Linked DNA regions of Homo sapiens: all the other regions are linked to region 2. Evidence: fine-mapped expression QTL. A gene starts in region 2. Each other region holds a variant in brackets. All regions are shown on one strand. Distances are from middle to middle. Region 1 has its middle 21 kb from the start of NAGK. Region 2 holds the start of NAGK (N-acetylglucosamine kinase). Region 3 overlaps LOC105374795 (a long non-coding RNA gene).

Evidence for each region. PIP is the estimated chance that this variant, and not a neighbour inherited with it, causes the effect.
Region 1: its variant is the best candidate, but not a certain one, in a credible set for the expression of NAGK in pancreas (GTEx, PIP 0.56).
Region 3: its variant is the best candidate, but not a certain one, in a credible set for the expression of NAGK in breast (GTEx, PIP 0.67).

What each region holds. Positions count from the first base shown.
Region 1 is chr2:71,087,371-71,091,610 of GRCh38, forward strand. No RefSeq gene overlaps it. Among named protein-coding and RNA genes, the nearest start is that of NAGK, 21 kb to the left of the region's middle. RefSeq lists an enhancer at 3,186-3,775. The variant A/T (reference allele first, on the strand shown) is at 1,954.
Region 2 is chr2:71,066,339-71,070,574 of GRCh38, forward strand. It overlaps NAGK (N-acetylglucosamine kinase), which reads left to right and starts at 2,310. Exons shown (of 10, transcript NM_017567.6): 1 at 2,310-2,374; 2 at 4,164-4,236. The coding sequence starts at 2,346. RefSeq lists a silencer at 2,536-2,595.
Region 3 is chr2:70,969,859-70,974,098 of GRCh38, forward strand. LOC105374795 (a long non-coding RNA gene) reads right to left here. Exons shown (of 2, transcript XR_001739534.2): 2 at 2,871-4,240. Among named protein-coding and RNA genes, the nearest start is that of ANKRD53, 6.7 kb to the right of the region's middle. The variant A/T (reference allele first, on the strand shown) is at 2,561.

The sequences.
Region 1 (4,240 bases), 21 kb after region 2:
TGGGCTTGACTGAAGTAATGGGGGCTGTCTGTGAAGCCTTGCGGCAGTACAGCCCGGGTAATGTGCTGAGCCTAATGGGTGTCAGGGTCAGTCTAAGTGAAGGCAAAGAGAGGCTGGGACGAAGGGTGCAAAGGAATAGTAAAGAAAGCATGTTTGAGATCCAGAACAGAATAACAGGTAGTAGAGGGAGGTATTGAGGATAGGAGAGTATATGGGTTTGGCACCACGGGGTGGATAGGCAGAACAATTTGGTTGATAAGGCGCAGATTCTGAACTAACTTGTAAGCCTTGTCTGGTTTTAGGACAGGTGAAATGAGGGAATGGTAAGGAGAGTTTATAGGCTTTAAAAGGCCAAGCTGTAGCAGGCAAGTGATAACAGGCTTTAATCCTTTCAAAGCATGCTGTGGGATGGGATATTGGCATTGAGCGGGGTAAGGGTGATTAGGTTTTAATGAGATGGTAAGGGGAGCATGATCGGTCGCCAAGGAGGGAGTAGAGGTATCTTATACTTGTGGGTTAAGATGGGGGAATACAAGAGGAGGACGCAAAGGAGGCTTTGGATTGGGAAGAAGGGCATCAGTGAGATGCGGCTATGGTCCAGGAATAGTCAGGGAAGCAGATAATTAGGTTAAAATGTCTCAGCCTAATAAGGGAACTGGGCAGGTGGGGATAACTAAAAAGGAGTGCTTAAAAGAGTATTGTCTAAGTTGGCACCAGAGTTGGGGAGTTTTAAGATGTTTAGAAGCCTGGCCGTCAATACCCACAACAGTTATGGAGGCAAAGGAAACAGGCCCTTGAAAAGAAGGTAATGTGGAGTGGGTAGCCTCCGTATTGATTAAGAAGGGGACAGACTTACCTTCCACTGTGAGAGTTACCCGAAGCTTGTCGTCCGTGATGGTCTAGGGGGCTTCCGAGGCGATCGGGCAGCGTCAGTCTTCAGCCGCTAAGCCAAGAAGATCTGGGAAGGAGTCAGAGAGCCTTGGGCCAGAGTTCCAGGGACTCTGGGAGTGGCTGCCAGGTGAGTTGGACAGTCCGATTTCCAGTGGGGTCCCGCACAGATGGGACACGGCTTAGGAACAATCCTGGGCTGCAGGCATTCCTTGGCCTGGTGGCCACATTTCTGGCACTTGCAGCAAACTCCTGGGGGAGAAGGTTCTGGAGGAACGCCTGGCCACTGCGGTTCAGGCATTTGGAAGTTCTTGTGTGCTGGAGATGTGGCTGGGATTTGTCTCACAGTGGAGGCAAGGAATTGCAACTTTTTTCTATTATTGTACGCCTTGAAGGCAAGGTTAATTAAATCCTGTTGTGGAGTTTGAGGGCCGGAATTTAATTTTTGGAGTTTTATTTAATGTCAGGAGCATATTGGGTAATAAAATGTATATTGAGAATAAGATGGCCTTTTGACCTTTTAGGGTCTAGGGCTGTAAAGCGTCTCAGGGTTGCTGTCAAACGAGCCATGAACTGGGCTGGATTTTTATATTTGATGAAAAAGACCCTAAACGCTATCTGATTTGGGATAAAGAAAAAGGAGCATTAACCTTGATTATGCCTTTGGCTCCAGCCACCTTTTTAAGAGTAAATTGCTGGGCAGGTGGGGGAGGGCTAGTCACGGAACGAAACTGTAAGCCCGACCAGGTGTGAGAAGGGGAGGTGATAAAAGGATTATAGGGTGGAGGAGCAGAGGCTGAGGAAGAATTGGGACCTAGCTCGGCCTGGCGAGGAGGGGAGAGGTCAGATGGGTCTGTAGAAAAGGAAGATTAGAAAGACTCAGCGACGCTTGGGGTTGGTACTGAGGGGACAGGCGGGAGGGAAAGAGGGAAGATTTGGGATGAGTTGCACTGGGCACAGAGACTAGGAAGGGACTGATGTGTAAAAGAATGCCTGGACGTCAGGCACCTCAGACCGTTTGCCTATTTTACGACAAGAATTATTTAGATCTTGCAGGATGGAAAA[A/T]TTCAAAGTGCCATTTTCTGGCTATTTGGAACTACTGTCGAGTTTGTATTGGGGTCAAGCGGCATTGCAGAAGAAAATAAGGTTTTAGGTCAGGTGAGAATTGAAGAGGTTTTAAGTTCTTAAGAATACAGGCTAAGGGAGAAGAAGGAGGAATGGAAGGTGGAAGCTTGCCCACAGTGAAGGAGGCAAGCCCAGAGAAAAGAGTAGAGTCACGGAGAAGGGGTGGGGGTTTCTTGCCCTCCAGAAAAGCAGAGAAAGTGTTGGGGTACGGAAATAAGGGATTGGGGCGCAGAGATAAGAGGTTGGGGCGCAGAAATAAGGGATTGGGGCGCAGAGATAAGAGGTTGGGGCATGGAAATAAGCGATTGGGGTGCAGAGATAAGAGGTTGGGGCGCAGAGATAAGAGGTTGGGGCGTGGAAATAAGCGATTGGGGGGTTCTTGCCCCCTAGGAAAGCGGGACTTGCCGCTAAGGGCGAAGGAGAAGAGGTTGAGGGGTACTTGCCCCTGCCCCAGGAAAGCGGGACTTGCCGCTAAGGGTGAAGGAGAAGGGGTTGAGGGGTACTTGCCCCTGCCCCAGGAAAGCGGGACTTGCCGCTAAGGGCGAAGGAGAAGAGGTTGAGGGGTACTTGCCCCTGCCCCAGGAAAGCAGAGAAGGGGTAGAGACAAGGAGAGAAGAGGTTGAGGGGTACTTGCCCCTCTCCCAGAAAAGCAGAGAAGGGGTAGAGACATGGAGAGAAGGGGTTGAGGTACTTGCCCCTTCCCCAGAAAAGCGGGACTTGCCGCTAAGGATGAAGGACCAAGGCAGGCGTCCCTGCGTGGTCTGACACCCTTGAAACGTGGCTGAATGATCAGAGAGGCGTCCCTGCAATGATTAAACACCAGGGGAAGGCTGCCTTCCCAATCCGTGACCGGCGCCGGAGTTTTGGGTCCACGAATAAAACGTGTTTCCTTTGTCTCTCCCAGAAAATGAAAGGAATTGAAATTAAAAGAAGGGAGAGATTGAAGAGTGGAAAGGACAAAGTGGTTGAGGGACAGTGAGAGAGGTTGGAGAAGAGAGTAAGATGAGGCCACTTACCGAATTTGAAATTGGTGAGATGTTCTTGGGCTGGTCGGTCTGAGGACCTGAGGTCGTATGTGGATCTTTCTCATGGAGCAAAGAGCAGGAGGATGGGGGATTGATCTCCCAAGGGAGGTCCCCTGTTCCGAGTCACGGCACCAAATTTCATGCGCGTCCGTGTGAAGAGACCACCAAACAGGCTTTGTGTGAGCAACATGGCTGTTTATTTCACCTGGGTGCAGGCGGGCTGAGTCCGAAAAGAGAGTCAGCGAAGGGAGATAAGGGTGGAGCCGTTTTATAGGATTTGGGTAGGTAAAGGAAAACTACACTCAAAGGGGGTTTGTTCTCTGGTGGGCAGGAGTGGGGGTCACAAGGTGCTCAGTGGGGGTGTTTTTTGAGCCAGGATGAGCCAGGAAAAGGACTTTCACAAGGTAATGTCATCACTTAAGGCAAGGACTGGCCAATTACACTTCTTTTGTGGTGGCATGTCATCAGTTAAGTTGGGGCAGGGCATATTCACTTCTTTTGTGATTCTTCGGTTACTTCAGGCCATCTGGGCGTATACGTGCAAGTCACAGGGGATGCGATGGCTTGGCTTGGGCTCAGAGGCCTGTCAGTTAGCATTATAACCTTAATTAAAGAGACCCCAGGCTGAGGTGGCCCACCACACCCAGCCTATAATCCCAGCAATTTGGGAGGCTGAGGTGAGAGGATCACTTGAGCACAAGAATTTATGAACAGCCTGGGAAACACAGCAAGATCCAGTCTCTACAAGAAATTTAAATTTAAAAAAAAATTAGCTCTGCCTGATGGTGCATACCTGTTGTTCCAGCTACTCAGGAGGCTGGGCTAAAAGGATAGCTTGAGCCCAGGAAGATTGATGGAGTCTTCATGAATGAGATCAGTTTTCCTATAAAAGAAGCCTCAGAGAGCTGCCTTGCCCCTTCCACCATATGAGGATGCAGGGAGAAGCTACTATCCAAGGAGAAAGCACCAGCTAGAAGGAAGCTAACCTTCACCAAACACCAAATCGGCCCAGCCTCCAGAACTGAGAAATTTGTTTTTTTATAAGGTACCCAGTTTATGGTATTTTGTTTGGGCAGCCTAAATGGGCCAATGCAGTGGGTAAAATTTATGACATTGTGTCCAGAATTGGTGGGTTCTTGGTCTCACTGACTTCAAGAATGAAGCCGCGGACCCTCACGGTGAGTGTTACAGCTCTTAAGGTG
Region 2 (4,236 bases):
GCACAATCTTGGCTCACCACAACCTCCACCTCCTGGGTTCAAGTGATTCTCCTGCCTCAGCCTCCCAAGTAGCTGGGATTACAGGCGCCTGTCACCACGCCCAACTAACTTTTGTATTTTTAGTAGAGACAGGGTCTCGCCCTGTTGGCCAGGCTGGTCTTGAACTCCTGATCTTGGGTGATCCACCCCCTCGGCCTCCCAAAGTGCTGGGATTACAGGAATGAGCCACCACGCCCGGCTACTTTCTTCTTTAAATCAATTATATGGCCATTATTTATTTCATAAATAGGCATTCAGTGACTTTGAAATATTATGGTCCAGATAGAGACAACAGGGTTGTACAACAGAAATATGTAGGTCAAAATTTTAAATATTCTAGTAGTGACACTAAAAAATATAATAGATTGGCAAAATTTAGTAATCTATAATCTTGATCTACTACATCCAGAATGTTATTTCAACATGTGATTCATATAATAGTGACTAATGAGGTATCTTACACTCTTTTTTTGTAGTAAGTCTTTGAAATCCTGTGTGTATTCTACATTGACGGGACATCTCATTTTGGACTAACCACATTTCAAGTGCTCAGTATTCACATATGGATACTGTGCAGGACAGCACACACTAATTGGTAATGTAAATACAAGTTAGTTAAGATCTGTGAAGTACTTTATGGTTTCCAAAACTCTTTTGGCATTTAAATCTTGCGTCAGCCCCAGCAGGTAGATGTTTATCATTTCCATTTTGTAGAGGAGAGGCTGCAGCAATTACCTGTAAGTCACCCAAGCTCATCCAGCTAGTAAATGGTGAACTCAATTCTTGTCTTAAACCTGGGCACTTTCCCTTTTGCTTGCTTGCCTAAACAAGCAATACAAAGACAAACTTAATATTTATACACATACGTCCCATGGCTCATTGCAGTAGTACAGGACAGAAACAATTATTTCAAAATCCACCTACAATCTAGTCTCCAAAAATCCTGCCCAGTTTAATTGCACCACAATCTACTAACTGTAATTCTAAAAATGTGTATGTTGGATAATCTTCCAGCTCTAAAGTGCTGTGAATTAAAAAAATGCCATAGGCAGGCATAAAAAAATCCTACCCTCTATTATATTCTCCATCTGATATAGAATATATGATATATATTCTATAAATGAATACATGATACAGAGTCTATCATGTAGTGATTTACTTTTTACTTTTGTGAATTACAACGTGGTAGGGTAGGAAATGAGAAAGCTTAAAAAGCCTAATTTTCTCACTAAAGCATAACCAGACACAGCAGCCTATTAGGGGTTTCTCCAGAAGATGGCAGGCAGTCAAGGGGGACAGAGTTCGACCCGCGACAGGCCAACTGATTTCCCCAAAAAGATGCCAAGGGCAGCTAACCGCCCTCCTGGCCCGCGAAGCTGCTCCTTGAGGGCCCAAAACTTCCCGGAGGAGCCAGAGGAGGCCCTCAGGAGCCACAGCTCTCCCTGACTTGGCCTGTATTTGCACCCCTAGGGATCCCATTCCCTTTCCCGACGCAGCGCAAGGAAGGGGAGCGGAATGGGGGCTGAAAGGCAATAAAAAACTTGTAAAGCCGTATCTGCTAGTTCTCCCAGTGGGCTATGTCCCTGCAAATATCCTCCACAAGAAGTAAACTGGGTGGGTAGGAAGAGGTGAAGGCTCCCTCCTCAGGGCTGCCGGGACCGCCTCGAGGGCTTGTCTGTTTAGGTCCCAATTCCTCCCGGATCCGTACATTCACACGAGCGCAGGGCAACAATCTGAGCGAGTGTTCGTGTGTGCCCGTGTGACTCGCCATCGCGTGGCAGATGTTCAGTAGAACATTACAGTAATTTCTGTTACAGGTCCATGGGCGCAGGTCCCTGAGCCCACAGCTTCGCGGGGGTCTGGCCGAGCATGCGTCACAACCTACGCGGCCAAGAGCAGTGCGCACGCGCAACCTAACGCGGGACTGCCAGCAACTTCCGGGCGTTTACAGGCAGGCAGGTCAGTGATGTGTCCTAAGGGTCCGACCGACCTAGATACCCCTCTTTGATTCCTCCTCTTGGGATTAGTGTCCATCTCTGGAAGCAGGATCCAGGAGGACGGGAGGGGCCGCTGCGGACCGCAGTCGCTCCACCTGGAGGAGACACCAGAAGGAAGACAGCCTGAGGGACGCAGCCATCCCCGGCTCCTACCGGCGCCCCGCCCCGCGCATGCGCACGCGCACAGGGAGTCAGCTGGCTGCGCGGGAGGTCACGGGAAGTGGGGCGGTGCCCAGACAGCTGGAGGGAAGGAGGTGTCAGGCGGGGAGAGACGCAAACGGCGGGACCAGCAGCGACGGTAGCAGCAGCATGGCCGCGATCTATGGGGGTGTAGAGGGGTGAGTGCGGCCCGGCGGAGGGAGCCTGGGCCCGAAGGCGGGGCGGAAGGCCGTGGCCAGCCTGGCAAGCTGGTGGCCTTGATCCTCGGCGTCCGGGCACTTTGGGCGGCGGGACCTTGCGGTGAAGAGGTGTGTGCACGCGCAGGGGCGCCCTGGAGCGCACAGCTGTATGCCTTACGGGGACTCTGCCTGTGCAACAGCCACACCCCGGGTTGGGGATCCTTTGTGTTTCTTGGCGGAACCACGCCCCTTTCTTCCACGAAACACCCACTCCGCTGTCTTCAGCTGGAGAAGCAGCTCCTTTTTCCTATTCCTGACCTCGGACAGAGTTTTGCAGAACAGGTGTCAGGTGTGAAATTGCTGAGCGCGGGCAGGGTGGGGAGTGGGAGTGGGGAGAAGCGGGACAAAGATCTTGGCTGAGGTTATCCGGGAGCTGGAGCAGCTGCGAGCCAGAGTACTAGGTTGTCCTGATGTCTGAAAACCGCTCCATCCCTGTTGGCCTTCCATGCTGCTTTCACTAGATTGCATTTTTCTGCTCAGAAGCTTGTTTACTGAACTTTTTGTAATAGCTCTGCCCCTGGGTATGACCATGGACAAGATATTTACCCTCCCTGGGCTACAGTTACCGTATGTGCAAAGTGAGGATAGGGATAAATAAGATCGCTATGTCCCTGCCAGTGGCAACATTCTGTGAATCTGAGTTTGTCAAATCAGGGAATAATGGGGGTCGCTGGCCTCTCAGCCAGGGCACTGTACTTTCGAATCTGTGATTGTTTTCACTTCTCTGGCAGCCACACCCCACTGCTGATTCACAGACCCCAAAGTCTTTTCACATGAATTGTTAGGAATGATCTTTCCCATCCTGTATTTGTAGCACTTAAAAAAAACAGTATAGGAGTCTGCATTCATCCTTGTTATAGTCATCTGTAAGATATGACCCGTTTCTTCCAGTTCGTCAAGACATGCTTTTGGATGTGGAATCTGCCACCTCATGTATTAACTACCCCCTTGAAATTTCATGTCCTCTTTGAGTTTGATGAGCGGTCTTCAGTGTCTTCTTCTGCCATTCCTAAAAGTAATGATCAATAAAGAAACATATATCCCATCACCACAGATCTCCCTGTGAACTACTGTGACCCCCAGTAATCAACATTTGAAGGTTTAGTTGCTTAAGTATGTATGAAGTCACCCTGCCATCTGGTCAGCATTTCTAGCAAAGGTGTCTTGAAGACCTTGGCAGCTGGATCTTGAAATGCAGTCTTTAGCTATTGTGAGGGAAGCAGAGAGATGTGCCATTTTTCTTAGGAGTGTTTGCTGAGCATTGCCTGTGCCAGCTCCTGTGCTCGTTCTGAGAGGGTAAGTAAGTGATCAGGAGCTTGACCCAGTGGAGCTTGAAGTCTAGTGAGAGGCGGACACAAAGCGTCTGAACACACACTTCATACAGAGGAGACTTTAATAACTTTGGAGGCACTATGAAGGTTTAACTAACGGAGACTTAACTAATTCGTTGGGGTGGGCCACACCTCAGAAAAGGTTTCGAGGACTAGGTGAAGCGTAAGTAGAGTCTTGCAGGATAAGGAGGACATCCCCAAGGGAAGAGGAGTGAGAATTATGTTTCAGTTAAAGAGCACTCAAACACTGAACCACAGAGGCGGGTTTGGGAGTGGTGATTGAGTTTGTCGAAGCTGTCTCCTCCATCATACTGGGCTCTGCCAGTGTGGACAGCACAAGCTTAGCTCTCTCTGTGGGTTTTTCCGAGCAAGATCAAGTGCCCTCTTGTGTTCTGTAGGGGAGGCACACGATCCGAGGTCCTTTTAGTCTCAGAGGATGGGAAGATCCTGGCAGAAGCAGATGGACTGAGC
Region 3 (4,240 bases), 96 kb before region 2:
TGCTTTTTGATGCCATTGTAAATGGGATTGTTTTCATAATTCCATTTTCAGATTGCTCATTGCTAGTGTATAGAAATACAAATGATTTTTGATATTGATCTTGTATTCTGTAATCTTGCTGACTAATTTATTACTTTGAATCGTTTTTAAATGAATTCCTTAGGGTTTTCAGTATACAAGATCATGTAATCTATAGAGATAGTATTACTTATTCCTTTTGAATCTGGATGCCTTTCATTTCATTTCCTTACCTAATTTCCCTGGCTAGAACCTCTAGCACAGTGTTAAATAGAGGTGGCAAGAGTGGACACCATTGTCTTGTTCCTGATCTTAAAGGGAAGTCATTCAGCTGTTCACCATTAAGCGTGATGTTAGCTGTGGGTTTTTCATAGATTTCCTTTATCAAGTTGAGGAAGTTCAATCTATTCCAAGTTTGTTGAGTGCTTTATAATAAGAGGTGTAGAATTTTGTCAAATGATCTTTTTTTGGCTACTGAGATGATCGTGGTTTTTTATCCTTTATTCCATTGATATAGTGCATTATATTGATTTTCAGATATCAAACCAAACCTATATTCTTGGGATAAGTTCCCTTTGTCATGGTGCACAATCTTTCTTAATATGTTATTGGATATTATTTGCTAGTGTTTTATGGAGGATTTTTGCATCTATATACACAAGAGATATTGGTCTGTAATTTTTTTTTCTTGTGATGTCTTTGTCTGATTTTAGTAGCAGGGTAATACTAGCCTAATAGAATGAGTTGAAATTGTTCATTTTTCGTTTATATTTTGGGAAGACTTTGTGAATAATTTGTATTAATTCTTCTTTAAATGTTTGGTAAAATTCACCAAACATCTGGACTTGGACTTTTCTCTGTCGGCAGTTTTTACTACTAACTACTACTACTACTAACTGATTATCTTTAATTATTATATGTCTATTCAGATTTTCCATTTCTTCCTGAGTCCATTTTGGTAGGCTGTGTTATTATGGGATTTTTTTCCCTTGTTATCTAAGTTATCTAAATTGTTGGCAAGTAATTGTTCATAATATACCCTTGTACTCCTTTTTATTTCTGTAAAGTACATAGTAATGTCCCCCTTCATCTCTTATTTTAATAAATTTAGTCTTCTCTCTTTTTTTTGGTCAGTCTAGCTAAAGGTTTGCCAATTTTTAAAAAATAATTATTTTACTGATGCATAATAGATGTAGATAATTCCAGAGTACATGTGATAATTTAATAGATTCACATAATTTTTAAAGATCAAATCAGCGCACTTGGGACATTCATCACCTTAAATATTTGTCTTGTCTTTATGCTAGAAACACTCAAATTATCCTCTCCTGGATATTTTGAAATGTACAATAGATTGTTGTAAACCATAGTCACCCTACTGATCTATCAAACACTAGGTCTTATTTCTTCAAGTTTGCCAAATTTGTTGACCTTTTTTAAAAACCAACTTTGAGGCCAGGCATGGTGGCTCATGTCTGTAATCCCATCACTTTGGGAGGACGAGGTGGAAGGATCACTTGAGCCCAGGAGTTCGAGACCAGCCTGGGCAACATAGTGAGACCTTATTTCTACAAAAAATTAAACAAAATTAGCTGGGCATGGTGGTATGTTCCTGTAGTCCTAGCTACTGAGGAGGCTGAGGTGGGAGGATCACTTGAGCCTGGGAGGTTGAGGCTGCAGTGAGCCAAGATTGTGCCATTATACTCCAGCCTGGGTGACAGAGTGAGATCCTGTCTCAAAAAAATAAATAAATAAAAAATAAAAACCGACTTTGAGTTTAGTTAATTTTCCCTGTTATTTTCATCAATCTCAAAGCAGTCTCTAATTTTCCTTGTGGCTTCTTCTTTGACCTATTTGTTATTTAGGAGTGAATTGTTTAATTTCCACGGATTCGTGAATTTCTCAAGTTAATTTCTTACTCATTTCTAATTTCATTCCCATGTGGTCAGAGAACGTTTCAATTATTTTAAACTTATCGGGTCTTGTTTTATGGTCCAGCATATTGTCTATTCTACAGAATGTTTCACGCGCACTTGAGAGGAATGTATACTCTGCTGTTGTTGGATGAAGAGTACAACAGATGTCTTTCAGGTTTAGTTGGTTGATAGTATTGTTCAAGACTTCTACTTCCTTGTTGTACTTCTGGGTACTTATTCTATCCATTACTGAAAGTGGGATATTGACGTCTTCAATTATTATTGTTGAATTGTCTATTTTTTCTTTCAATTCTGTCAGTTTTTACTTCCTATATTTTTGGACTCTGGTGTTAGGTGCTTATATGTTTATAATTGTTATATCTTTCTGATGGATTGACCCTGTTTTCATTATAAAATGTCCTCCTTTATCTCTAGTAACATACTTTGATTGTGGGTTTTATTTTGTTTTGATGTTCAAGTCTATTTTGTCTGACATTAGTGTAGCCACTTCATCTTTCTTATGTTTACTGTTTGCATAATATATCTATTTCCTTTTCAACCTACCTGTGTCTTTGAATCTAAAGTGTCTTCTGGGCTGGGTGCAGTGGCTCATGCCTGTAATCTCA[A/T]CACTTTTGGAGGCCAAGGTGGGAGAATCACTTGAAGCTAGTAGTTTGAGATCAGCCTGGGCAACATAGTAAGACCCTATCACTACAAAAAATATAAATAAATAAAAAATAAAATGTCTCCCATAGACAGCATATAGTTGAATATTGACTTTTATCCAGTCTGACTGAGTGTTATTACTGATATGGTAGTATATACATCTGTCATTTTACTTTTCTTTTCTTTTTGTTTTATTTATTTCTGACTTCATCACTTTTCATTTTCTGTATATGTCATGTCTTTTTCATTCCTCTGTTTCTCCTTTAATCTTTCTTTTGCATTAAGTGAATATTTTATTATGTAACATTTTAATTCCTTCAATCATTTTCCATTCTATTTTTTTCAGTTGTTTTCTTAGTGGTTACTCTAGAGCTTACTCTATTCATTTTAGCTTATCAGAATCTATTTCAGATTTATACTAACTTAATTCCAGTGAGATACTGAAACATTATTCTTCTATTACTCAATTCCCTTTTCTAACTTTTTGTACTATTGTTATACATAGCGCATATATAATATGCAAATAATACATTGTTATAATATTGCCTTGTATAGTTTTATATCATTTAAAGAAGCTGAGAAGGATAGTAAATATATATTTATAGAGTATATTATATTAATCTTCTATACTATTTCTGGTTCTTGTTATTTGTTCTCACGGGTATGAGTTACCATCTGCTGTTATGTCTTTATTCCAATACAGATTTGCTCCCACCCACCTCATTTTTGTTGTTATTGTCAAATAGATTACACTTCTATACATTATAGGCCCAACAATACAATCATATATGTTGTTTTATACAATTTATTTTTAAGTCAGTTAAGAGAAGGAGAAGAAATATGCATTTATATTGTTTTTGTAATTACATAGTCATCTTTACCAGTGCTCTTTGGATTTGTTTTGTTTTTATTTTGTGAAGATTCAGATTATGGTGTGGGGTCACTTACTTCTAGTCTGAAGAACTTCCATTAGTAATTCTTGTAAGGCAGGGATGCTAGCAACAAATTTTCTGAGTTTTTGTTTGTCAGGCAATGTCTTTATTTTGCCTTTATTTTCAAAGATAGCTTTTCTGGATATAAAATTCTTGAGAGTTGTTTTTTGTTCAGCATTTTGAATATGTTACCCATTACCTTTTGGCCTCCATTGTTTCTGATGAGAATTCAGCTATTGATCTTATTGAGGTTCCCTTGAATGTGATTTGTTCTTTTTCTCTTGCTGCTTTGAAAACTTTGTCTCTCAGCATTTTTAGTATGATGAGCTTAGGTGTGGATATATTTGTGTTTAACTTACTTGGAGTTTGCTGAGCTTTCTTAAATGTGTAGATTAATCTTTTTCATCAAACTTGGCTAATTTTCAGCCATTGCTTCTTCAATTACTTTCTCTGCTCTTTTCTCTCATCTCTCCTTCTGGAATTCCCATTATGAGTATGTTGGTGTGCCTAATGGTGCCCCCCGACTTTTTTTGAGGCTCTGTTTTCCTTCATTCTTTTTTCTCTTTGTTCTTTGGATTGCATAATCTCTACTGCCTATCTTCAAGTTTGCTGATCGTTTCTTCTGCAAGTTCAAATCCACTATTGTTCCTCTCTAGTGAATTTTTTGTTTCAATTATTATACTCTGCAATTCCAGAATTCATTGGATTATT